Homo sapiens: one gene and its partners. The protein of the gene in region 5 interacts with the protein of the main gene of each other region in a pairwise test. Each region holds a gene or a part of one and is shown on either strand. Other genes may lie near its edges. The genes, in order: ANXA6, DOCK2, DDX21, TIA1, MAPT, AATF and ANXA2.

Region 1 (3,500 bases), on a different chromosome or scaffold from region 5:
TCCCGGACCAATGAGCAGATGCACCAGCTGGTGGCAGCATACAAAGATGGTGAGATGGGCAGGAGGGGCCGCTTAGGATCTTCAGATACAAAATGAGGATGATTGCAACAGTGGGGACACTAAGATTCTAGCCATCTACCTTCTCTCCTCCTTTCCTCTGATCCATTTGTCCACCCATTTATCTACCCAATAAGTACTTGCTCTGTGCTGGGTGATGTGCTAGGTTCTCGGGATAAAACCAAAGGGGTCCCTCTCTCTTAGGCCAATGAGATAATGAGATAATGAAGGAGACACACAATAAACAGGTGAACAGATAAACACAGTGATGATGGATTTTAGCTAAGTGTTGTACAGGAAATAAGGTAACAAGAATCAAACTTTTACCAGTGAGGTCTTGGGAGGAAATGAGGAACCAATCGTATAAAGAATGGAGAGAAGATCCTTCCAACAGAGGTCACGGCAAGTGCAAAGGCCCTGAAATAGAAATGAGCCTGGTAGCCGGTACAAGGCTAGACAGGTAGAGGACAGGGCAGGATCACACAGGGCCTGCAGGCCAAGAGAGAGATGGTGTTTTATTCTGAGTCTAATGAGAAGTTGGGGAGTATGATGATCAGATATGGGTTTTAAGACAGCCATCCTTGTTGCCGTGGGTTGGAAAGGAATTGAGAATAGAGGAGGAGAGAACCATCGGAAAGCTGTAGCCACTGTCCAGGTGGGCCGTCATGGTATAGGTGGGCTAGAGAGAATGAACAGATTCCATTTCATCATATCATGGTCAGTACGAAGAGCTGTGAAAATATACCCTGGGTCTTGCCATGATGGACGTGTAGACTGGGTTTTGGAATTCTTAAAAATATCTGATCATTTTGGGGGCAGCAGGGCCCTTTATCCTAGATCCCTGAGGTCTCTGGGGATGAGACTAGAGCTTGCGTTCCTTTCTGCAGCCTACGAGCGGGACCTGGAGGCTGACATCATCGGCGACACCTCTGGCCACTTCCAGAAGATGCTTGTGGTCCTGCTCCAGGTTGGTTCACAGCCTATTTTTTTCCTCTGGAGCTTGGGATAGCTTTTGTCTGGCTCATCTGGGTGTAGATCTGAATGTCCAGGGTCTGGTCAGCTTCCCCTGGTTTGCACAGGCAGGTGTATTTGGCTAATCCTCTTTCTCTTTGGCACACAGTCCTCTCGTGCCCAGGAGTGTCTTCTGCTGTGATTTTCTTCCTCTCTCCACACTCGCTCCTCCCGCTCCTCTCTGGGCCTCCTTCCTGCCATTGCTTCTGCAGCTGCACATGCAGCATTTCTGGACCCCAGCATTCCTGTGGCTACTGTGTGGAGTCTCCCACATCCGAGCCTTATTGCCTCCTCACCGCCCGCCCAAAGTATATCACAAAGAGACTATTAGGAGGCTACAAATTGGTGTCTGTGGCTGAATTCAACCTGCCAAGTTGGATTTTTTGTTTGTTTTCCCATAAAATGTGTTTTAAGAAAGAAAGCAAAACAAGTTTGAGTTAGTTGCTAACATTTAAAAATTGTGAGATTTTGCTCAAAAACCAGATTTCTGGATTATTTTAATGTATTGAAAGTTGCGGTAGCAGCAGACCTGCATTCTGCACGACTGCAGTGGGCTGGAGAGCATATGCGTCCTGCCCGTTTCACCGTGAATGTTATCTACCTGGCTCTGTAGGTATCTCTGTGACCACAGGCACGATGGGAACAGGCATTGAGATGTCTCAAGCTCAGCTCCAAGGACCAAATGGTTATGAAACTTTATATATAAATTAAGCCACCACTATGTTTCCTCGTTCCCCCATTTCCCTTTTATACCAGCTCCTCCCAACTCTGTTCCTCTCATTGCCATAACAATCCCATATTAACCAGCTGGGGAATGATCAGGAGAAACCTCAGGAGTGGGACAGTGTGACCTGTGCCCCATTTTCAAAGCTGCTTGTTCTGGAGAGGAGTGTCCTATCCCTGTATCTTGGAGTCAAGCGTTTTGTATCCTCAAGGTTTGACACCAAGCAGCAGCGCGGCACACATTGTAAGCTTGCCAGCTCTGTCTTCTGCTCAGTCCCAAAGAGAACCCTGGGGGTTTGAGATCCTGGAATGCACAATCCAGGGGGAAGAGGGGATGGCCATAGACCTCTCCAGGCCACCTGCAGACCTCTGCCCACGTAAGAAGGAGTTGAGTACTGCTCGCCCCTCTTCCCTTTGTGCATCCTCCTATGTGTAAGCTTCCTCTATCAGATGAGGCAAAGGGCATGGGCAGAACAACAGAAGCACCATTAGGATTTGGTGACTTTGTAGCTTGTGAGCTCAGATCTTGGGACCTGAGTCCCAAATCCTTATTGGTGAATTCTTTAAGTTAAGGTATAAGAGCTCCTAATAGAATGCAAATGTTCAGATCCTTTGCCCCTGTGGAATCGTTGCTGGAGGAGTGTCATGGGCCATGCAGGATCTGTGGCAGGGACCCTCGAGAACCTGGGGCCCTGTCCTCAGAGAGGTCCTCAGGGCAAGGCTCTGCCTACCTCTGGGCTGGGGACACCTGGAAGAACCTTGGTTGTTCTTGGGACTCTCCTGTGTGGACCCAGCCCTGACGAGGAAGGGAAAGGCCAGAGGGAGGGTCCCTTTTGATTGGCTCACAAAATAGATACTGTGGTCTTCATGCAATAGCAGTCACTGCTTCTGGACACATCTGGGCCACCAGGGTTTTCCTGCTTTCCCTGTCTCCACCACTGGCATCCAGGCCTCCCTCCTGACTTTGCAGTGTTTGAAACACATGTTCTTTGTCTTTCTGCCCAGGGAACCAGGGAGGAGGATGACGTAGTGAGCGAGGACCTGGTACAACAGGATGTCCAGGTAAACAAGCACCACTGAAAGTCCCTGAGGCACAGCAGAAGAGCCTTGGGAGGGGAGAGGTTGGGGCCCTGGGAAGGGCTGGAGGTGAAGTCATTTGCATCAAATACCAGAAATAACCCAGCCACAGCTGTCATGTATACCGGTGCTTTGTTGAAGAAAAGATATAAGTTATCTTTCAAAGGTATATCCCATATGTAATATTGGTATATTGGTGAGGTGTACTTTGGAGCTTTCTTTATTCATTCAGTTTTTAGATATTATTGAAGTAAAATACCTAGCATGTGCTAGGCACTCTGCCAAGCATTTAGAAATCACTAATGAACAAAATCAAGTGGTACCGGGAGAGACAGGCATACATTAATCACACAAACACCTTCTCTATCAATATACTGTACATTGCAGGTGTTTTGAGTACCCAGTACATGCCAGCAGCACTACAGGGGCTGATACAGAGAATGCTATGACATAGTCCCTGTTGTTGAGGAGCTCATGCAATAGTGTGGAGATAGACAGGTGAAGAAATCATTATCATATACAGTAGATCAAAGTGATAAAGAAGTAGAAAGCTATGGGAGCCTAGGAGAGGGAGGAAAGGAGGGAAATAGAACTGTGCCTGGGGGCATCGGGAAGTACTTTGAGAAAAAAAT
Region 2 (2,608 bases), on a different chromosome or scaffold from region 5:
TTCACTGGTATCTGCTCAGCAGGTCTCACCACACCCTGGCGGTCTGGGCTCTTTCTCCCATTTGGCCAATGTCAAAACCAGCAGTCAGAGAGTAACTAATTTTTCATGTCTCTGTGACGCCAAGCTGGGGCTGTAACCACTAGGTCATCTGGCCCCTCCACCAGGTGACACGTGGGTTTGAGACTCTCTTCCCGCTGTCTCCTGCAATGGGGAGAGAAATCCAGGGTGTTGGTGTTGGGAGCTGGAGGAAGAGTAAGCTCACACTGTCCCCTGCCTTGGAGCAGAAGGTTCTGTTTCCTGGGGATGTCAGGGCTTTGGGGCAAGGTTTTGACCAGGAGCCAGGAGGCTGAACCCTTGTCTGTAGGGTGGGCAATCTTCACTGCAAGAGGACAGCTTCAATGTCCCCTGGCACGGCAGGAAATAGGCATCCTGCCTCCTGCTTGGCACATACAATGTGTGATCCCTGGATGCTGGCTCTGTCCCCCAGCCCTCCCCCTGTCTACCTCCCCCAAGGCACTGCCCCTCCTCTACCCACCCATTCACACCCCAGCTCTGCTCTCCTTCCAGCCCTGGCGCTCTCAGTGGCAGGCATCCCTGGGTTGGATGAGGCCAACACATCTCCCCGCCTCAGCCAGACCTTCCTCCAACTCTCAGATGGTGACAAGAAGACACTCACACGGAAGAAGGTCAATCAGTTCTTCAAGACAATGGTGAGGACATTGAGGGTGGAAGGAAAGGAAGGCATTGGGAGGAGAAAGGGAAGAGAGCAATGCAGAGAGAAGAAAATGGGGGGTTGTGTGTGCATATGTGGTCATTCCTAGGGAGGCATAGTCAGGAGGCCCTGAGTTCTGGGACACTGTGCAGCAATGCCCAGAGGGCAGTTCTCCTCTGGGGCCTCAGGCAGCTCCTCTGACCAGGATTGACCCCAGCTAGGGATGTGCAGGACCCAGGGACCTCAGAAGCAGTAGGTGGCCTACCCTCGCCTAAACTGCCCCTTAGTGCTCCAGCCCTTTTTTATTCAACCTATATCACAAAATCCTACAAATTGAACATTAGTTTCCAAGCGCTGATTCTGCAAGTCCCATCTCCTATTGTTACTTGTTGGCCTTTGCTCAAGATCAAGAAGGTACCATAACACATCTGATCCTCAAGGTAATATGAAATCAGGACTCTGCTACTACAAATATCTCAAGTTTACCATGAGCACACGATGAGTCAGGCACCATGCTAAGCACTTCCCAAGCATGGTGCCATTTGAGCTCCCACTCTTAGGATTTTATATGGGAGGCTCACAGGGTTTGGTAAGTGAGGTGCCCAAGTCCACATGGCTAGTGAGCCTGGGCTCACTCTACTGTCTACCACTGCCTTTCTGGCCAAAGCCAAGGGCATAGCAGCTCACATTCACTGGGCTTTGGGCAGGGGTCAGTGTTGAGGCCCTTGTGATTAGGACTGGGAAGCTCCATTTTGGTGCTTAATCTGATAATCGCATCTTGGTTTTGTGCTTGTTTATTCTCTCAAAAGCTGGCCAGCAAATCGGCTGAAGAAGGCAAACAGATCCCAGACTCGCTGTCCACGGACCTGTGAGCTGCTGCTGACTAGGGCTGCATGGGAGAGCCAGGGAGGGGAGTTTCTGGAAGAGGAAAGCCATGCGTGGAACATCGAAGCCTCAGAGAGTGGGAGACTGTCCCCATCAGTTGTCCTTACTTAGAGGAGACAGAGAGGCCAATCAGGTCCCAGAGCTTGAATGCTAACAAGCCCAGCATCCCCTGGGGCTGTGATCATGGTGGATGAGGAAGCCTCAACGTAGATTCCTGAACTCAAGGTACCAGCAAGAATGCCTTCTCCCAGTGTGCTCTCCCCAACATCCTAGGCACAGCTTTCATAACCCAGTTTCTTAGGTGTAAGAAACTGTTTTTATCTCATTTATTAAGTCTCAGAACTTAACAGAAAAGGAAGCCTTTTAAATATTCTTTTTAATTTTATTTTAGATTAACAGTTTTGTACTTTACATTTTTTTATACAACCAACCAGTTTCTTTTCTAGCCAATCATCTCTGAAGAGTTGCTGTTTCTTACTGACAATAAAAAATGTTCTCTTGGTTCGAATAAGCCTTGTTGCCTGATTCTGTTGGCTGACTCTCCTGGGCCCAGGACTGGGCAGGAAGCTCCCTGGAAGGAAGGCAGGCCCAGGGGCTGCAGTGATGTGAAGGAGCCTGGTGATGCCCTTGCCCAATGCCAAATTTCCCCACCTCATCTATGAGAAGATTCTTCAAGAATCTCCATGACTCTTGTTCCTTAGGTGCCAAACCCTGGGCTACCAGCATGTTAAAAAAGTTGCCCTGGTCTTCCTCACGAATCTGAATAGTGGAGTGTCATACCTCCTTTCTTCACCTTTAGAAAGAGATGGCAAGACCACCCAAGCCAGGTCACTCTAGTAAAGACCAAACATAATGCCAAAGAGTTAGGAAAAGAGGGGTCTGAGGTCCAGTGGACTTATGGTCCAGCTCTTGGATCTTGTCACCGGCTCCCAAGTGGTGGCTTTTCTTGGAGGAATTCTCAGGTTTTTCAGATGAGGCCCAAAGGAGGTGAGTAGCTTTGTCAGGCAGCAG
Region 3 (2,699 bases), on a different chromosome or scaffold from region 5:
GCAGAGGTTGCGGTGAGCCGAGATCGCGCCATTACACTCCAGCTTGGGCAACAAGAGTGAAACTCCGTCTTAAAAAAAAAATTTTATATATATATAAATCTTTTCCTCCAAAGTAGCTTTTATGACTTTGCTTAGCCTTAAATCTTACCAGGCAATGTTAGGGGCGTCTTTATCTGTACTTCAGAGTCTTTAGGACACATGTTTATGCAGGTAAACTTTTACCTTGCTGTGTTTGCTAATGGAGAGCCTCAAGAACACTCAAAGGCAAAAACTGTTTTCTAATTACCTCTATACCCAGTGAATGCCTGGGATTATACTCTACTTCGTAAATATGTAAGCGAAGATTCCCATGAATGGCAAAATCCACCAGTAGGTGATGATACCTATGTTATGATTGGGTAAATTTTGGGGTGAAAGGGGTGTTCCTTATAAAATATTGCAGTTGAAGACAGCAGGGAGAGGAGTGCCTGTATTAGTTAACACATAGTTTGACTATATTTTTAGACGATTTCCTTGATTGGAGAGGATGGCACTTAATATTAAAGATGGTGTCCTGGCTAGGTGCCATGGCTCACACCTGTAATCTCAGTATTTTGGGAGGCTGAGCTGGGAAGATAATTCTTGAGACCAGCCTGGGTAATGTAGTGAGACCCTGTCTCTACCAAAAAAAAAAAAAAAAAAAAGCCAGATGTAGTGGCATGCACCTGTAGGAATTCAAAGTTACAGTGAGTTGTTAATTGCACCACTGCACTCCAGCCTAGGCAGTAGAGCAAGACCCTATCTTAAGAGGGAAAAAAAAAAGATGGTGTCCTGTATTATTTTTTTCATACTCTTACAGAAGGCTGAATTAAGAAAAACCAGAAAATCAACAATAGAAGATCACTTGTTTTTCTGCTTTTAATTAGGTCATTCTGAATAGCTGGCATTGCTTTTCTGATGGAAGGCAGTATATAGTTTAGACTATAGGTTTTAGAGCCATACAGACTAGATTTTAAATACTTGTGCCATTTAATAGCTGTGGGGCCTTAGACAAGTCAGCTAACCTTTCCAAGCCTGTTTGCTCAGCAATAAAATGTAGCTAATAGCCACTAGGGGGTTAGCACAGTGTAATAGCTAAGACTCTGTCTATAGTTAGAAAGTTCTAAATCATTTGGGGTTCTTTTTTTCAATGTTCCTTGTCTTTCTGCAGTGTACTTTTGGCAGCTATAATGTATTAGCTTTGGTCTAAAGTTCATCTAAAATTATACCTGGTGGTTTTTTTGCTTTATGTTTTTTGTTTTCTTTTTTTTAAAGAATACGTGGTCTTTTAAAGGGAGTATTTTTCATGTGCGTTGGTTGGATTAACTTCCATTTGCTTTGATTTCTAGGGTGTTTGCTTTGATGTACCTACCGCATCAGTAACAGAAATACAGGTATTCTTTTCCCTTAGATTTTAAAGTTAACATACCTAAATTGTAGAATGTTAATTATGAAAATAGAGAATAATAGATTGGGAAACAATAGTTCTGGTTCCTTTAGTAAGAGATAATCGATAATTAAATTTTGGAATATTCCCCCCTAACTTTTTAATTCTGATATTTTTGTAGTTGAACCCACCTGGTTTCTATATTTCCTTTATACAAAGTTGTGAACGATATCCAGCTCTCCCCACCCTTTAACACTTATATATGGTATATAGATTTTGTGTGTGTGTGTGTGTGTGTGCATGTGTGTGTGTGTTTTCAGACAGAGTCTCGCTCTGTCGCCCAGGCTGGAGTGCAGTGGTGCAATCTCGGTTCACTGCTACCTCCGCCTCCCGGGTTCAAGCGATTCTCTTGCCTCAGCTTCCCAAGTAGCTGGGATTATAGGCCCATCACTACCCCCAGCTAATTTTTTGTATTTTTAGTAGAGACGGGGGTTTCGCCATGTTGGCCAGGCTGGTCTCGAACTCCTGACCGCGGGTGATCCACCCACCTCCCAAAGTGCTGGAATTACAGGCATGAGCCACCACGTCCAGCCTACAGGTTTTCATAGACATTTAAAATTGTTACATCTTTATTCAATACTGTGAGAAATGTGTGCTTAATATATTTGTTTTATTACCTTTGGCTGTAGATACCCTGTAGCAATTGAGTTGAATAAATGGTTTAATAACTTAATAAATGAAGTAGTGATGAGGGCTATTTCTCATAATGAAACTGTGTTTTCCCACACTTCAGGGACACTGGCTTTTGGACCATGATGGGTGGCCAGTGTTATTTTTGACCAGTGACTTGTTAAGCACTTATGTTATCACCTTTTCTTTGAAGAAGTGGCAAATATTTTGTTTTTCTCATGCTTTTTAAAAATTGAATACTAATTAAAGCACACAAAAACAAAACATTCTCTCAACAGGAGAAATGGCATGATTCACGACGCTGGCAGCTCTCTGTGGCCACAGAGCAACCAGAACTGGAAGGACCACGGGAAGGATATGGAGGCTTCAGGGGACAGCGGGAAGGCAGTCGAGGCTTCAGGGGACAGCGGGACGGAAACAGAAGATTCAGAGGACAGCGGGAAGGCAGTAGAGGCCCGAGAGGACAGCGATCAGGAGGTGGCAACAAAAGTAACAGATCCCAAAACAAAGGCCAGAAGCGGAGTTTCAGTAAAGCATTTGGTCAATAATTAGAAATAGAAGATTTATATAGCAAAAAGAGAATGATGTTTGGCAATATAGAACT
Region 4 (3,940 bases), on a different chromosome or scaffold from region 5:
TTGAGACGGATCCTCGTTCTGTTGCCCAGGCTGGAGTGCAATGGCAAGATCTCGGCTCACTGCAATCTCCACCTCCCAGATTCAAGGATTCTCCTGCCTCAGCCTCCTGAGTAGTTGGGATTACGGGCCCCCACCACCACATCCAGCTAATTTTTGTATTTTTAGTAGAGACAGGGTTTCGCCATGTTGGTCAGGCTGGTCTCGAACTCCTGATCTCAGGTGATCCGCCCGCCTCAGCCATCCAAAGTGCTGGAATAACAGGCGTGAGCCACTGCCCCCGGCCTAAACAGCTATTTCTTAAATGCTTTTCAATGTGCAATCAATACACGGAAGAAATGCAAATATAAATAAAAATCTGGCATCTGGAAATATCCTCCCCGCGCTGAAAAATCTGGCTAGCACCAACGACGCAAATTCTTAATAAAATCCTTACTTTTTTAAGTAAAACTTTTTTTCTTTTTTCTTATTTCTTAAGTAAACATTTTAAATTGAAATTTTTTTTCTGTACAGAGAAAGTTGAAACATCCATTCCTATGTTTGGGATGAGAAAAGATAAATTATTTATGTTATTGGAAAACAGAAGATTACAGACTGTCAATAAACTTTTACTTTTAAATGAATAAATAATACATGACAATTCTTTTCACATGAGAGAACGTCTGCTTCTATTTCCTCCTAAAATACTGTGGCGGCTGGGCATGTCAACAGCGCCGCTGGTGTAGTGGTATCATGCAAGATTCCCATTCTTGCGACCCGGGTTCGATTCCCGGGCGGCGCATAGGCGTTTTGCTTCTCGCTCGCTAAAAACCAGATAGCTTGAAGAGTCTTTATATATCTTTCCAAAAGAGGAAAGATTTAGGCTTTTTACTGTCCCTGAAGGTTTCCACTCCCTCATAATTCGCGGTCGAAACACTCGAATCCGCAGCCAGAAGACAAAAAAGTTCACGCAAATCGTGAAGTAGTTAATACTTGCGCCTGCGCAGTCTGAGGCGTCCCTCGCGTCGGGTGGAAGAGCGGCTGCGCAACAAGTGAACCTATGGATTAAGGTGTAGCCGGGCGGCCCGGAGGTTGAGAGTGCAAGATTATTCTGCGCCTGCGCGGCCCGGGTAACTTTGCTGGCTGCTCCTAGGCTCCCGGCTCGCCGCCATCTTGTATTGGGGTTTCATTGTTCCCGCTGGGCCGGGCGGTTTAGTGTAATTGCCGCCGGAGGAGGAGGCGGAGTAACCTCTGGTCAGCCGAGAAACCCCACTATCCTGTAGCCATAACCGCTTAAACGATTTGGGAGGTAGTGAAGGGCAGGGAGCTGGACCTGGAGGCGCCGCCGCGACAGCAGCAGCCATGGAGGACGAGATGCCCAAGACTCTGTGAGTCTGGGGCAGCGATGAGGGAGGCGGGATGGTGGTCGTCCCGGAGGGAAGGCCTCGGCCCTGCGCCGCTCCCAGCCTATTGTTCTCCGTGGACACCGCGATATCGTGGTTTTTGTTTCCTTAGCATGCACCTGGATGCTTACAACCAAGACCCAATCTGTGAGGACGAGGTGAAGGGAGACGGGGCTCAACCCTCTCAATTAATCCCTTCACTTTAGCAACACCATTGCATGACCTTTGCTCTCGCCACGGGCCCTCTGTGGTCTTAGACCTGGAGAAAAGACTTTAATTCAGACCTCTTTTTAGAACTCGTCGAACCTTCCTTTTGTCCTATGCTTTCTTTCCTTTTCCCGCTTCTCCCCCTTTTTGATTAACCTCTTCTTATCTTTACAGCCGTCTCCCTTTAATTTTACTTTTGATTTCCTACTGAAATTCTTCCTTTCATTTTCTTCTCGGTGATAAGATTTTTTTTCCTCCTCGAGGGTGCTTGTACTCATTTTCAGTGCAGTAAACTTTATTCTTGCAGTTGCCAATTGGAAAAAAGCCAAGCATTTTTCTTTAACCTCTGGCTTTCCTTCTGTAGCACCCACCGACCAAAAAGCCTAACCAGACACCCCAAGGATTTGGAAATCTCACCCAGAAGGAATATATCAATTGAGGGGAAATGGATTTAATATTATTTTTATAGTCGTTTACTACTGTTGTGATTGACATGGTGTTGAACGAGCGGGCTGTAAATGCCCTAACATATTTACAGAGAATTTTTAGAGATAGCGTTAAATTACCGGAGCGTGGATATTTTCTTTGTCGTGTGGCTTCCCCAACTGCGTTCTTTGTTTTTCGAGGTATTATCGGATGAGTTGATCCTGCCTTTGTTGGCATTTCTCGGAAGAAGAAAAGCTCAATGAGTTCTTGACATAGCTTTTTGTTTTTCTTGGATGACATAGCTTTTTGTTTATATTCTTGGAATACTGGCAGTTTGAGAGCTCCATGCATTAAAAATGCAATTTTAGGTTTCTCTTTGCAGCTCTCTAATAAAGTTGCTCTGAAGTACGATGTAATTGTTTTTTTACCTCCAAAATTTTTCCACTTTTAAGTTGCTATTTCTTGTCTATATTGGAAATGTGGTTACACTTGTTTTCTTAATAGATTGTCAGTTAATCTGTTAGTAACCTTGAAATTTCTTTTCTCTATTCCTGAGGCTCAGAAAGTATCTTTTCAGTAGGACGTAGCAATTAGTGCATGACCTTTGTTTTAGGAAAGATTGTATCTGTAGATGAATACTCCCTAAAAAACTACTAGCCTCACGGTGTTGGTGGAATCTCTTCCCTCTTGCCTCTTAGCTATGACAGTCATCAGCATTTTGGGTTAAGGCACTGCTCGTGTTTTATAATGTAAACTTAATATTCTCAGTATTAGTTTGAAAATGTTTAATTTTAGAAACTGCAGAAGTATCTGACCACTTAACTTTTTAACTTTTTAATTTTGTTTTTACTTTTTAATTTTTTGAGATGGAGTCTCACTTTGTCACCCAGGCTGCAAGGCTAGAGTGCAGTGATGCGATTTCGGCTCACTGCAACCTCCACCTCCTGGGTTTAAATGATTCTCCTGCCTCACCCTCCCAAGTAGCTGGCACTACATGCGGGCACCACCATGCCCGGCTAATTTTTGTATTTTTAGTAGAGATGGGGTTTCACCATGTCGGCCAAGCTGGTCTCGAACTCCTGACCTCAGGTGATCCGCACACCTCGGCCTCCCAGAGTGCTGGGATTACAGGTGTGAGCCACTGCGCCTGGCCTGTCCTCAACTTTTAACTATTACATTTATTACTTATTTTGCCTTGTATCCCTCACTAATACACCCCATCCAAGAAACTCTTCCTCAAAGTAGTCATACTGTAAAAGTCTTCTCTTGTTTCTACCTCCCTCAACCCAAACTCCCATTTTTCTAGTCAGGCAAACCTTGACCAAACATGAGGGTACTAATCCCTAAGTTTTCCTAATAGTGTTTTTAATTTTAATGTAAGATTTTTGCTTTAATGACCCTGGAAGTCAGAGGCTTTTAATATATGTTCTTAGCAGAGTTCTTAGCACATTAAAAACACAGCCTCTCAATATATGTTCTTAGTGTGGTCCATGGTAAGTAATCAATACATTTGTTTAAGAAACTGGTATAATTGGCTGGGCACAGTGGCTCACGCCTATAATCCTAACACTTTGGGGGGCTGAGGAGGGTGGATCACTTGAGGGCAGGAGTTCAAGACCAGCCTGGCCAACATGGCGAAACCCTGTCTCTACTACAAATACAAAAATTAACTGAGCATGGTGGCGCATGCCTGTAATCCCAGCTACTCGGGAGGCTGAGGAAGGAGAATCGCTTGAACCCGGGAGGTGGAGGTTGCAGTGAGCCGAGGTTGCGCCATTGCACTCCAGCCTGTGCAACAGGAGGGAGGCTCCATCTCAAAAAAAAAAAAAAAAAAAAAAAAAATCTGGTAGAATTTCAAGCAGTGAATTAAGATTTTACTCTTTCTTGAGGATAAAATAGAGTCTGAATTTTTATCACCCACATACCTA
Region 5 (3,500 bases):
GCGGATGACGGTGGGGTGCTGAACCAGCCGGTGCGCCTCTGGAAATGTCTGGGCACGGATCCTGGGGCCATCGACGACTCCTCCCCATTCCCAGCAGGCGGGAGCTCTTACATTCCGAGCGAGTGACCCCTCTCACCCTCTGGCGCTCACACACCTGTAACTCCAAACCTCCGTCTCAGAATGGTCCAGGCTGGAAGGGATGATGGGGGCTCCGACAGCGACTGCCTAGCTCACCCCTCTGCGTGCTCAGGCTCCAGGCTCAGCAGGACCAATTTGAGTTCTATCTGATCCCCCTCGGCCCCTTAACTGACCCATCCTACAGGAGACAGGGAAATGTCTTTCCTACCGCGGTTGATTCTGGGGTGTCATTTTGTGTTTTGTGATGGCTGCTTATATTTACTGTATAAGCATTGTATTTACTGTATAAGCATTGTATTATAATTACTGTATAAGCTGCTTATATTTACTGTATAAGCATCTCCAAATCCTCCCTCTACGTAAACAAATTAATGGATAAACAGATAAGTGTATCCCCTGCCCCCACCCCTGCTACGCAGGTCCGGAGTGACTCTTGAAGCTCATACATTCCTTGGCCAAGTTTGCTTCTCTAACAGATGTTTATATAGCAATAACCTGGCTTGGCTCTTGGGTTCACCTTTGGACGATTTGGGGAAGGGGCTTGTTGGCTTTGCTGGGTTTTGGATGAGTGACAGTCCATGACTGTTCCTGCTGGAAGGGCGTGACTTTTAAGTGGTTTCTAATATCAGGCATTGCTCCTCCGACAGGAACAAAAGAAATGGATACTGCCCATAAATTGTTAGAAAACTTAGAATCGCTTTGATTGAGGAAAGGTTAGATTTATTCCGGTTGGAAAAAGTGGCCTTTCTATTAAACGTGCCCTTTGACCCTCATGCCCTTGGAGGTCGGTGCCAGCCTGGAGATGGGATAAGATTGTGGTTTTCCTTCTGCCTTTTTAACATCTGTTGTTACAGTCCATTTGTTGAAAATTTAAAGAAACTGTTTTATTCCACTTTCCCTCAGCATTTATGTGTGTGGTTTCAGTAGCTCTGTGGCTATATGTACGAACACGTGTTATTTTTCCAATTGGACATGTGATAATTTTCCAACTGGACCTTGCCTTCTATTGATGTATTTATTTAGCATCTTCCTTACTCCCTCCTTGAAAAAGAATCACTCAAAAACAAATAAAAACAGCCGTAGGGGCCTAATACAGTGCTAGACATACAAGAGGTATTCGGTCCATACCAAATGGATTTTATCCATGAAGGATAAATGGGGAAATACAGTGGGAAGCAGGTGGGAAACTGCGTTTGACTCTGCTCTTTCCTCCACCACCACTTTCCTCATCACCGTGTTCAGAGACCCCCAAAGCCCCCTCACACTCCCAGAAACACCCCCCTGGCCACTCCTAACTTGCCATGCCCAGGAGTTAGGTGCTTCCACTAGTGACATGGAGCTGGCGTTTGGGGGGCACCTCAGCAGGTGACGGGAAGAGAAGACCCCAGCCTCACCAGCTGGGCTGCAGCAGGGAGAGGAGTCCTCATGTTCCAGCAGGGACTCTCAGCTGTTTTCCTGTAAAACCATGGTTCTCAACTGGGGGCCACTGAGATGTCTAGAGAGATGTTTTTGTTTTCACAACTCGGGGAGGGTGCTACTGACATCTTGTGGGTAGAGGCCAGGAATGCTGTTAAACATCCTACAAGGAAGGCACAGGACAGTCTCCTACATCAAAATATGACCCAGTCCCAATGTCACCACTGCTGGGGTTGACACTGGCACTGCTATCTTAATTACATTCATTGAGTGTCTTTTAGGAGGCCCTATTCTAAGTGCTTGCTAAGATTATCTCATTTAATCCTCACAACACTTCCGCTATGTAGCAGGTGCTGTTATTATCTCCGTGATGGGGAAACTGAAGCACAGAGAGGGTTAGTAACTTGCTAAAGGTCACAGAGCCAGTGGGTGGTGGAGCTGGTTGCCTGACACTAGTTCCCTCCCCTCTCAGCCACATGTGGGTTTACTTGGCCATTGTGGACTAGTCTGGGAACCCAGATATGATCTATAACATTGACCCAGTAGAATATTGATTCCAAAACCACTGTCTCACAAATGAATTTTTACAAGAGTCTGTAATCGGAGCATGACCCAGAATAAGGTTAGGGAGATGTGGAGTTAAAGCTCTCAATTTCTTATCTGGCCCCGACACAGAGAGCAAGGCATTTCACTCTACATTGGTGCTCTGTTTATAAAACAAAGAGCAAATATCTCTTCCTAAGGTCCTTAAACCTCTTCCCCCAATCCAGGGTTTCTGGACTGCTCTGCCATATGACGGGGCAGCTGGTTTGATTGACCCAGGGAAGGCTGGAAATCAAGACTGGGGGATCAAGACGTAGATTCAGTGTGGCCAAGGTCAAGTCTCTGAGGTTTAGGGACATCAGATCCCCAGCTTAGGTTCTGTACCTCGGCAAGGTGAAAGCGTTGGCGCCCACTGATGAGGCCTGCTCTGAGATTGTGGGTGTGGGTTGAGTTGGGTGGGCATAGGCAAGTCCTCTTGTAAGAATCTTTTGGCAAAGATGGGCCTGGGAGGCTTTTCTCACTTCCTGGGGCCCAGGCTTTGCAATAAGTATTCCATTATACTGTGGTACCTTGGGGCTACCTGAGAATCCTCTGTCTCGCCCCTGTTGCCTTGCCAAAGAGTTTGCTGTCCAAGAATTCCTTTCCTGTCTCCAGGTGCCATGCTCCTGCCACCTCTGCCAGGTTCCCTGCCTGCCCAGATGGCTCCCAACTGAGTGTGAGGAGGAATTTGAGACAGGTTTTGAGCTTTCTGGGTTCTCCAGTTAGGAAACTTTCTGTAAGCATGCAGATAGAATGGGCTTCAGCAAAATACAAACTCGAACAACTTCCATGTATAGTCCCTTAATTTTCTTTGCTTTTTTCATATTTCATCAGGCTCCATGCTGAGCCCAATCAGGGACCCGATAGAAATCCAAACACCATGTCAGCGAGTCCCCAAGAAATGCATTTTGTGCCAAGGCTATTCAAGGAAGGTTTGGGAGCAGCTCAAGGGCAGACACTGTTACCCTCCCCCAGGTCCCCAGTGCAGGGCAGTGTTCTGCATGTGGAGGCAGTTTGGCCTAATGGTTAAGGAGGTAGGCTCTGATCGGGCCTCCTGGGCACAAATCCCAGCTCCCTGCTCACTGTGAGACCTAAGCCATATTGTTTAGCTGCTTGGAGAGTTTTTTGTCATCCACAACTTGGAGTATGATGGTACCTGTCTCACGGGTTGCCATGGGGTTCACACAAGCTAACCCGGTACTCACTAGGGCCAAGCACATAGTAACTGCTCAGTAAATGGCATCATCGGCGGTGTCCTGTGGATGAGTGCTTGTGATTGGCTGAATGACCAGAGGGGTCTAAAGATCCTGGTGATGGAATCAGTTGTACAGATAAATTGTTACACTGAGTAGGGATCAAGATAG
Region 6 (3,500 bases), 8.9 Mb from region 5:
TACCATGGAACAGATTGGATAAACTGTAAAAACCTCTACATATCAGATGATACTCTAAGCATAAGTCAAACAAAGAGCCTTAACTAGCACTCTGTCTACTATAGGATCAAGTTCAGAGTCCTCATGAAAGACGAGACCTTTCCTGATTAGTCTCATCTCCCATCACTTCCTTGTGCATCCTGCACTCCAGTGCGTTTTCCCTTCATTATCTATGAGCTGTTGCCTTATGCTTCATAAGTAAAATTATAATGTCTCCTTCTCCACATGATACCATCCCCCACCTTTCCAGGAGAGTTAGGTGGTTCCATCTCCATACACTGTGTACTAATGACCTTGTAATATAATTATTGGCATGCATATCTACCACTCCCACCAGACCATGAACTCCTCCCAGCAAGTATTAAATTCTATTTGCCTTTCCTTAGCCCCTGGCTCATAATGAGTGCTTAATAAGTATTTAGTAAATAGGGCAGACGGATGTGATAGATTGTACATTTTTTCAGATCAGGTTTGGGAAAACTGGTAATTCTCTAACACCAGTTGAAATCTTACTGTTCTTCAAGGGCCAGAGCAAATGCTAGCTCTTCCTTAGAGATTAGCTTAAATTCACTTGCCCCACAGTTAAAATTTCTCACTCTTCTGGGTTATTGAAATTTTGTCAAAGCACTTCTGATGCTTCCTTGAGTTGTAATGTTGTGAGTCTGTCTTTCCCACTAGCTCCTTTTGTTAGGGTAGGACCCGTGTTCTATTCATCTTTGCTTCTCCCTTAGCATTTTGGAGATTGTAGATGTGTAATAAATATATTGTTGAATTGAGTGCAGTAAGAGATTTTCCCCCTGATGCCACAGTGCTTAAGTTGAAATGAAGTCTATGGCTTGGTATTTTCTCCAGGTAATACCCATTTTTCTCTTTCTTCCCTCTCTTCTTTGTAGATGAGGAAATATCTGATGAGGAAGGGTCTGGAGATGAAGATTCAGAGGGACTGGGTCTGGAGGAATATGATGAGGACGACCTGGGTGCTGCTGAGGAACAGGAGTGTGGTGATCACAGGGAGAGCAAGAAGAGCAGAAGCCACTCTGCAAAAACACCGGGCTTCAGTGTCCAGAGTATCAGTGACTTTGAGAAATTTACCAAGGGAATGGATGACCTTGGGAGCAGTGAGGAGGAGGAAGACGAAGAGAGTGGCATGGAAGAAGGGGATGACGCGGAAGACTCCCAAGGCGAGAGTGAGGAAGACAGGGCTGGAGATAGAAACAGTGAGGATGATGGTGTGGTGATGACCTTCTCTAGTGTCAAAGTTTCTGAGGAAGTGGAGAAAGGAAGAGCCGTGAAGAACCAGATAGGTTTGTACATGGTTTTGCTGATTGCCTGTTTTTCAAAGTATCTGCATTTGGTCTACTTTTCATTTGTTTGTTTTTGGCTATTCTCTATCTCCTGTGTCCTTTCAATTAGTTTGTGACATGCCCCACTTACCCAGAAGCCTAAAGCCCTATTCCTGTATGCTTAGCCAGCCATTTCTGCACTGATCTGCTTAGCTGGTTCTGCTCTAGTACTTCCTGCAACTGGGGAAGATTGAAGAGAAGAGTGTTTTCTCCTCTCCTTGGGTTTTAGCATTCCCACTCTGCTGTAGCAAATACTTGCTTCATGGATACTGAATTTATTTTCTCTAATAGAGAATATTTGTTTCCATGGCATTAAACTGCTAAAGCTGTGGTGCTTAGAGACTGGTGTGGTTTCCTGTTCTTCCCCACCCCTGCCACCTCACCCCCAGAATATTTTATTATTGAGGAATGGGATTCTCTTTTCTTCTTTTCAGCACTGTGGGACCAGCTCTTGGAAGGAAGGATCAAACTACAAAAAGCTCTGTTGACCACCAACCAGCTTCCTCAACCAGATGTTTTCCCATTGTTCAAGGACAAAGGTGGCCCAGAATTTTCCAGTGCCCTGAAAAATAGTAAGAATACTTATGTCCTGTTGGAATACTTAGAACCACTTTGTCAAATGAAGACAGCTTTGATTGAAGTGGACTGGGAGCTTGAGCCATGTTTATTGTGCTTTCTTCTCATCTGCCCTTGCTCTCCCCTCCCCATCCCCCTTGGCTTTCCAAGTTGCTTTTTTTTTTTTTTTTTTTTGAGACAGAGTCTCGCTCTGTTGCTGAGTCTCAAGTACAGTGGCGCGATCACAGGTTACTGCAGCCTCGTCCTCCTGGGCTCAAGCAATCCTCCCACCTCAGTGATCCTCCCACCTTAGCCTTCCGAGTAGCAGGGACCACAAGCGTGCACCACCCTGCCTGTAGAGAGGGATATTTTGTAGAGACAGGGTCTCACTGTGTTGTCCAGGCTGGTCTCAAACTCCTGGCCTCAAGCAATCCTCCCACCTTTGCTTCCCAAAGTGCTAGGATTACAGATGTGACCTACTGAGCCTGGCCCTGAGTTAATTCTTTAAAGCTCAGGGGACACTGGTTGAAAACCCACTGATGTAGAAAGGGAGAAAAAGAATGTCTAATTCAGCTCATTAAACTTGGTTGTATCATGTGTTTAAAAGATGCTTCCTATGTTTGAGAGGTTTTTAGAACAATGTGCTAAGATGATCTTATTTATATCTTTCTTTGAGTGACATAGAGTGAGGAAAGATGATATGCCGAGGGAGAAACACATTTTAGAGGAGAATTACTGAGCTATAAAGAATTCTAGAAGAGGAAAAGGAATTGAGAGACTATTTGGTTCCCAATGTCTTCATTTTACACATGAGAGAATTAAGACCCAGAATGACTTGCCCAAAGTTGCAGAGCTTATTTGTGTATGGCGGAGATGAGGCTCCAACTTTTCTACCTTATGATGTAGGAATCTTCCCTCTGCACCACACTGCCTCCTGTGTGCTGCTTGCCTGTGTGCCCAGTGGCACTGAAGGACTGGGGCAGAGGGAGATTTAGGGTGAGTGTGCTGTGTTTGGGATCTGTATATATCTATATCTAGATATTCAGAGTCCTCATGAAAGAGATATCTATATCCATAGATATAGATATATATGTATAGATTATGTATCTATCTCTCTATATATATATTTGGGAGGCCTTGGCCTCCCAAAGTGTTGGGATTACAGGCATGAGCCTCTGCGCTCAGCTGAGATCAATATGTCTTACTTGCATGCTGAGACTTCATGTTTTCATTTGCTCTTTAAAACTTATTTTTTTAGTATCATGGAGTTAGAGTTGGAAGGGACCTGAGGAGGATATCTAATTTGGCATCTGCCTGTAGGTAGAACCGCCTTAAGACATTCAAGATCAATGTGTAGGATTTCCCAGGTAGGGAGTTCAGTGAACGTTTCTTGTAGGTGAATACCTGATGTAATTAGGAATGGCTTCCTAGAGTCCAGTTTTTGGGTTTTGTGTCCCGCCACACTTAAAGTCTGCTTCTTCCCCTGTGGGAAGTCTGGGCAGTCCTTCCCAGGAGCCTTACGTGGCCTGTGTGGGTGAGGTGGGCCATTTATATCCCCGCCCC
Region 7 (3,500 bases), on a different chromosome or scaffold from region 5:
CTACTGTATTTCAATATAGATGCTATTTTGAATATTGAAATATACTTTCATTCAAAAGCATTGTTTAATTCTTAGTAGTTTTTGCCGCTGTGCATTTTCTCAGTGGACAGTAAAGCACAATTGTGTGTGTGTGTGTGCGTGTGTAGACCTCCAATTTTTTTGATGTTCAGAACAAGTACTCACAGTCAGGAGGGCTGGGAGCCAGTATTTAAACTACACGAGAGGTCACCAATCAACGGTGAGCCTGAGGATCCCTGATTTGATCTAGCCCTGCTGCCCCCTGTTATGGATAATAACTCTGGCTCTGATTTCATGAGGGCGAAAATCATTCTAGTGAATCCTTCCTCTGTTTGGGGTTAAGGAGAATGGATATGTCCAGCTGACGTAGCTGTTCTGCTTCTCAGAGTCTTAGTGGGAAATGGGGAGATTGGGGTGGATGGTTGGCTACACAGGCAGAAAGCATAAAACCAGATGTATTTTCCTCCAAGTGTACAAGACTGATCTGGAGAAGGACATTATTTCGGACACATCTGGTGACTTCCGCAAGCTGATGGTTGCCCTGGCAAAGGTTGGTTTCCCAGTTTCTTTCTTTGCCCTTGCTTCCTCCCAAGGCAAGTCACATACCTCATTTTATACTTGGAGTGAATTAACTAAATCCCCTGTGCCTGCATCAGAAATTCAGCTGCATTTTTGAAAGTGGGTTTGCACTGTCACTGCAGAGTTGTCAATTTTGTATAATAGGATTTCTTATCCTGCAAAACCTCATGGACAAGTGGACTTTGGGAGCCAGAGAAGGGATGGGCGGCTCTCAAGTCCTGGCCTGGATTTATGTGCCAGAGCCTTGGCCGTGTGACTTAGGGAAGGTCACTTTGCCTCTATCTGTGGTCATGCAGGACCCAGTGGGAAGTGACCTTCTGGTTTCTTTTTCACTGCGTTTACTTCTCATGGAAGAATTTGCCCATATAGTCCTTTGTCTGGGGTGGAGTTGTCTTTGTGGAGCTGATTGCTAATATTAACACATTAACATGGAGGAAGGGGCATTTCCCCTGTGAATCCCTAGTTCTGGCCAGCGTGTAGCTTAATACTTATGTGCCAGGGGAGGGACGAGAGACCCTGGGAACCCTGATGACAAATGACAGATAGTGCGTCCGGCCCACTCACATCTCCATTACTGCAACAACTCCTATGCCATTCTCCCTCGCTCTCCTCTCTTCGCTACCACCTGCCCCATGTACCACCATCCACGGATCTCTGTGAAATACACTTTCACCATTTTACTCCTCTGTTCAAACCCCATTTCTGCTGCATCAAATTTAAACTCCTAACTGCTGTGAAAGGTCCTCTAAACCCTCCCTGCATCTTCTTTGCTCATCTTTCCCGCTCAGCTCTGCTCTGACAGGGCAGCTCCTTACTTACCTGAGAGCGTGCTGTGCCATCCCTTGTGTGCCAGCTGGCTCTCCCGCTCTGCTTGGCTAGCTGCATCTGACTGACCCTTGAAGTTTCAGCTTAAGCCCAGGCCCATCGTTCACACTCTTTGCTGACTCTGCCCTCTGAGAGTTCTTCCTCCGCCCGCATTTTGTGTCTTTCTAGTGCTGTGGGTTCCCGGGCTGCTTTACATTTGTTTCCACATATTCCTCCATCTGCATTGCAAGCTCTCTGTGAGAAAGAGCTAAATCTCATCAGCTTTTTGTGGGGGATGGGGACAGGGATTCTGTAAGGTGTGTAGGCCAGGACTGGGTATCAAGGGGGGGATTGTTGATGGCAAGGCACAGCCCCCACTTCCTTGCTCAATGATTTTACCACTCCTTGGCTGGTCTAGGTTTCTTTTTCTTTTTCTTTTCTTTCTTTCTTTTTTTTTTTTTTTTTTGAGACAGAGTCTCACTCTGTCACCAGGGTTGGAGTGCAGTGGCGTGATCTCAGATCACAGCAACCTGGTTCAAGCGATTCTCCTGCCTCAGCCTCCCGAGTAGCTGGGACTACAGGCATGTGCCACCACGCCTGGCTAATTTAGTAGAGACAGGGTTTCACCTTGTTAGCCAGGTTGGTCTCCATCTCCTGACCTCGTGATCTGCCCGCCTTGGCTTCCCAAAGTCCTAGGATTACAGGCGTGAGCCACCGTGCCCGGCCCCATCTATGTTTCAAAGTAAGAAAAATCTTACGTGGTTACTTATTTAGGAAATTAAATAATGGCGTACATGGACTGGGGAGAAAACATTTTCAGTTTTAAAATACACAAAGAAATGTATTTGAAGTTCTTTTTCTTTCCCCCATAGGGTAGAAGAGCAGAGGATGGCTCTGTCATTGATTATGAACTGATTGACCAAGATGCTCGGGTAAGTGCTGAGCTTTTTGCTTTGAGTTTTTGTTTTCTGGTAAGTCTCTGGATAGTCTATATAGTAATTTAACTCTGTGTGACAAATGACTCCCAAACTCTGTGGCTTAAAACAACAAACATGTATTATTTCTCAGTTTCTGTGTGTCAGGAATTGAGGAGTAGATTAGCCCAATTGTTCTGGCTCAGGGTCTTTTCTGAGGTTGCAGACAAAATGTTGCATGGCTGCAGTCACCTGAGGGCTTGACTGGGTCAAGGGAATCTGCTTCCAAGATGGTGCACTTCACATGACTGTTGGTAGGAGACCTTAGAATCGCTCCACATATGCCTCTCCATGGGGTTGTTTGAGCGTCCTCACAACATGGCAGCCGGCTTTCCCCAGAGCAAGCAATCTGCAAAGAGGAAGCCACAGTGTCTTTTATGACCTAACCTCAGGAGTCCCACCTTGCACTGCTGTCATACTCTTTTCATTAAAAGTGAGTCACTGAGTCTAGCCCACACTCAGTGGGAGGGGATTAGGCTCTTCCTTTGGAAGGGAGGAACCTCAAAGAATTTCTGGCCGTATTTTAAACCCACCATAGTCTGACAGCAATGTTTATTAGAAGACATTCTCTTATAATGCTGGTGTTACTTACAGAATCAATACGTGACTCACATATGCTCACTCAGGCTTTGCTTGTATGGAAGCATCAGTTTCTGCAGAGTGTAATGTGGCTGTGCATACCAATCAGGCAGGCAGGTGGGAAGCAGAAGAAGGTGGAGGAGACACAGCCAGGGACAGGATGGTGTACTGCTCTGTTGTGGTGGGGGAGAAAGGGAGGCCAGCAGAGACCTGTCCTTTTCTGGCTGAATAAGACTTTTGCCAGTTCTAGTTCCATTATCTCTGAGAACTATTTGTTAAGCTTATTCAGACTGCAATGAACTATATTCTTTACTCAGAGGGACAACGATTATCTCAAAGTAAGTCATAAAAGCTGCAGAAAAAAATTAATTTAAATTAATGTTAGTTTTAAAATTCAATATATTCCACACGGCACTTCTAGCAGGTAGTAGAGAAGGGTTTTAAATAAAGTAATAGAAGTTGGGTTTTGCAGTTCCTAGATGGTGGAAGATCACGGAATGAATATCTACCCTTGCATAAGCCTTTCTTCCTCTTGCCCTCCCTGCC

Evidence for each region.
Region 1: the proteins of MAPT (region 5) and ANXA6 interact in binary tests that used the Homo sapiens proteins (3 or more experiments, as listed by UniProt).
Region 2: the proteins of MAPT (region 5) and DOCK2 interact in binary tests that used the Homo sapiens proteins (3 or more experiments, as listed by UniProt).
Region 3: the proteins of MAPT (region 5) and DDX21 interact in binary tests that used the Homo sapiens proteins (3 or more experiments, as listed by UniProt).
Region 4: the proteins of MAPT (region 5) and TIA1 interact in a protein complementation assay, tested with the Homo sapiens proteins (one study listed by BioGRID).
Region 6: the proteins of MAPT (region 5) and AATF come close enough for resonance energy transfer, tested with the Homo sapiens proteins (one study listed by BioGRID).
Region 7: the proteins of MAPT (region 5) and ANXA2 interact in binary tests that used the Homo sapiens proteins (3 or more experiments, as listed by UniProt).

What each region holds. Positions count from the first base shown.
Region 1 is NC_000005.10:151,133,780-151,137,279, reverse strand, and holds part of ANXA6 (annexin A6), read left to right. Parts: coding exon 1-49; intron 50-944; coding exon 945-1,024; intron 1,025-2,796; coding exon 2,797-2,853; intron 2,854-3,500. UniProt on the Homo sapiens protein: May associate with CD21. May regulate the release of Ca(2+) from intracellular stores.
Region 2 is NC_000005.10:170,081,275-170,083,882, forward strand, and holds the end of DOCK2 (dedicator of cytokinesis protein 2), read left to right. Parts: intron 1-567; coding exon 568-710; intron 711-1,521; coding exon 1,522-1,584; 3' UTR 1,585-2,108; downstream 2,109-2,608. UniProt on the Homo sapiens protein: Involved in cytoskeletal rearrangements required for lymphocyte migration in response of chemokines. Activates RAC1 and RAC2, but not CDC42, by functioning as a guanine nucleotide exchange factor (GEF), which exchanges bound GDP for free GTP.
Region 3 is NC_000010.11:68,980,170-68,982,868, forward strand, and holds part of DDX21 (nucleolar RNA helicase 2), read left to right. Parts: intron 1-1,367; coding exon 1,368-1,412; intron 1,413-2,373; coding exon 2,374-2,643; 3' UTR 2,644-2,699.
Region 4 is NC_000002.12:70,245,829-70,249,768, reverse strand, and holds the start of TIA1 (cytotoxic granule associated RNA binding protein TIA1), read left to right. Parts: upstream 1-1,140; 5' UTR 1,141-1,338; coding exon 1,339-1,364; intron 1,365-3,940. UniProt on the Homo sapiens protein: RNA-binding protein involved in the regulation of alternative pre-RNA splicing and mRNA translation by binding to uridine-rich (U-rich) RNA sequences.
Region 5 is NC_000017.11:45,897,554-45,901,053, forward strand, and holds part of MAPT (microtubule-associated protein tau), read left to right. Parts: exon of another isoform or gene 1-1,245; intron 1,246-3,500. UniProt on the Homo sapiens protein: Promotes microtubule assembly and stability, and might be involved in the establishment and maintenance of neuronal polarity.
Region 6 is NC_000017.11:36,951,954-36,955,453, forward strand, and holds part of AATF (protein AATF), read left to right. Parts: intron 1-932; coding exon 933-1,343; intron 1,344-1,816; coding exon 1,817-1,954; intron 1,955-3,500. UniProt on the Homo sapiens protein: Part of the small subunit (SSU) processome, first precursor of the small eukaryotic ribosomal subunit.
Region 7 is NC_000015.10:60,352,987-60,356,486, reverse strand, and holds part of ANXA2 (annexin A2), read left to right. Parts: intron 1-488; coding exon 489-568; intron 569-2,273; coding exon 2,274-2,333; intron 2,334-3,500. UniProt on the Homo sapiens protein: Calcium-regulated membrane-binding protein whose affinity for calcium is greatly enhanced by anionic phospholipids. It binds two calcium ions with high affinity. May be involved in heat-stress response.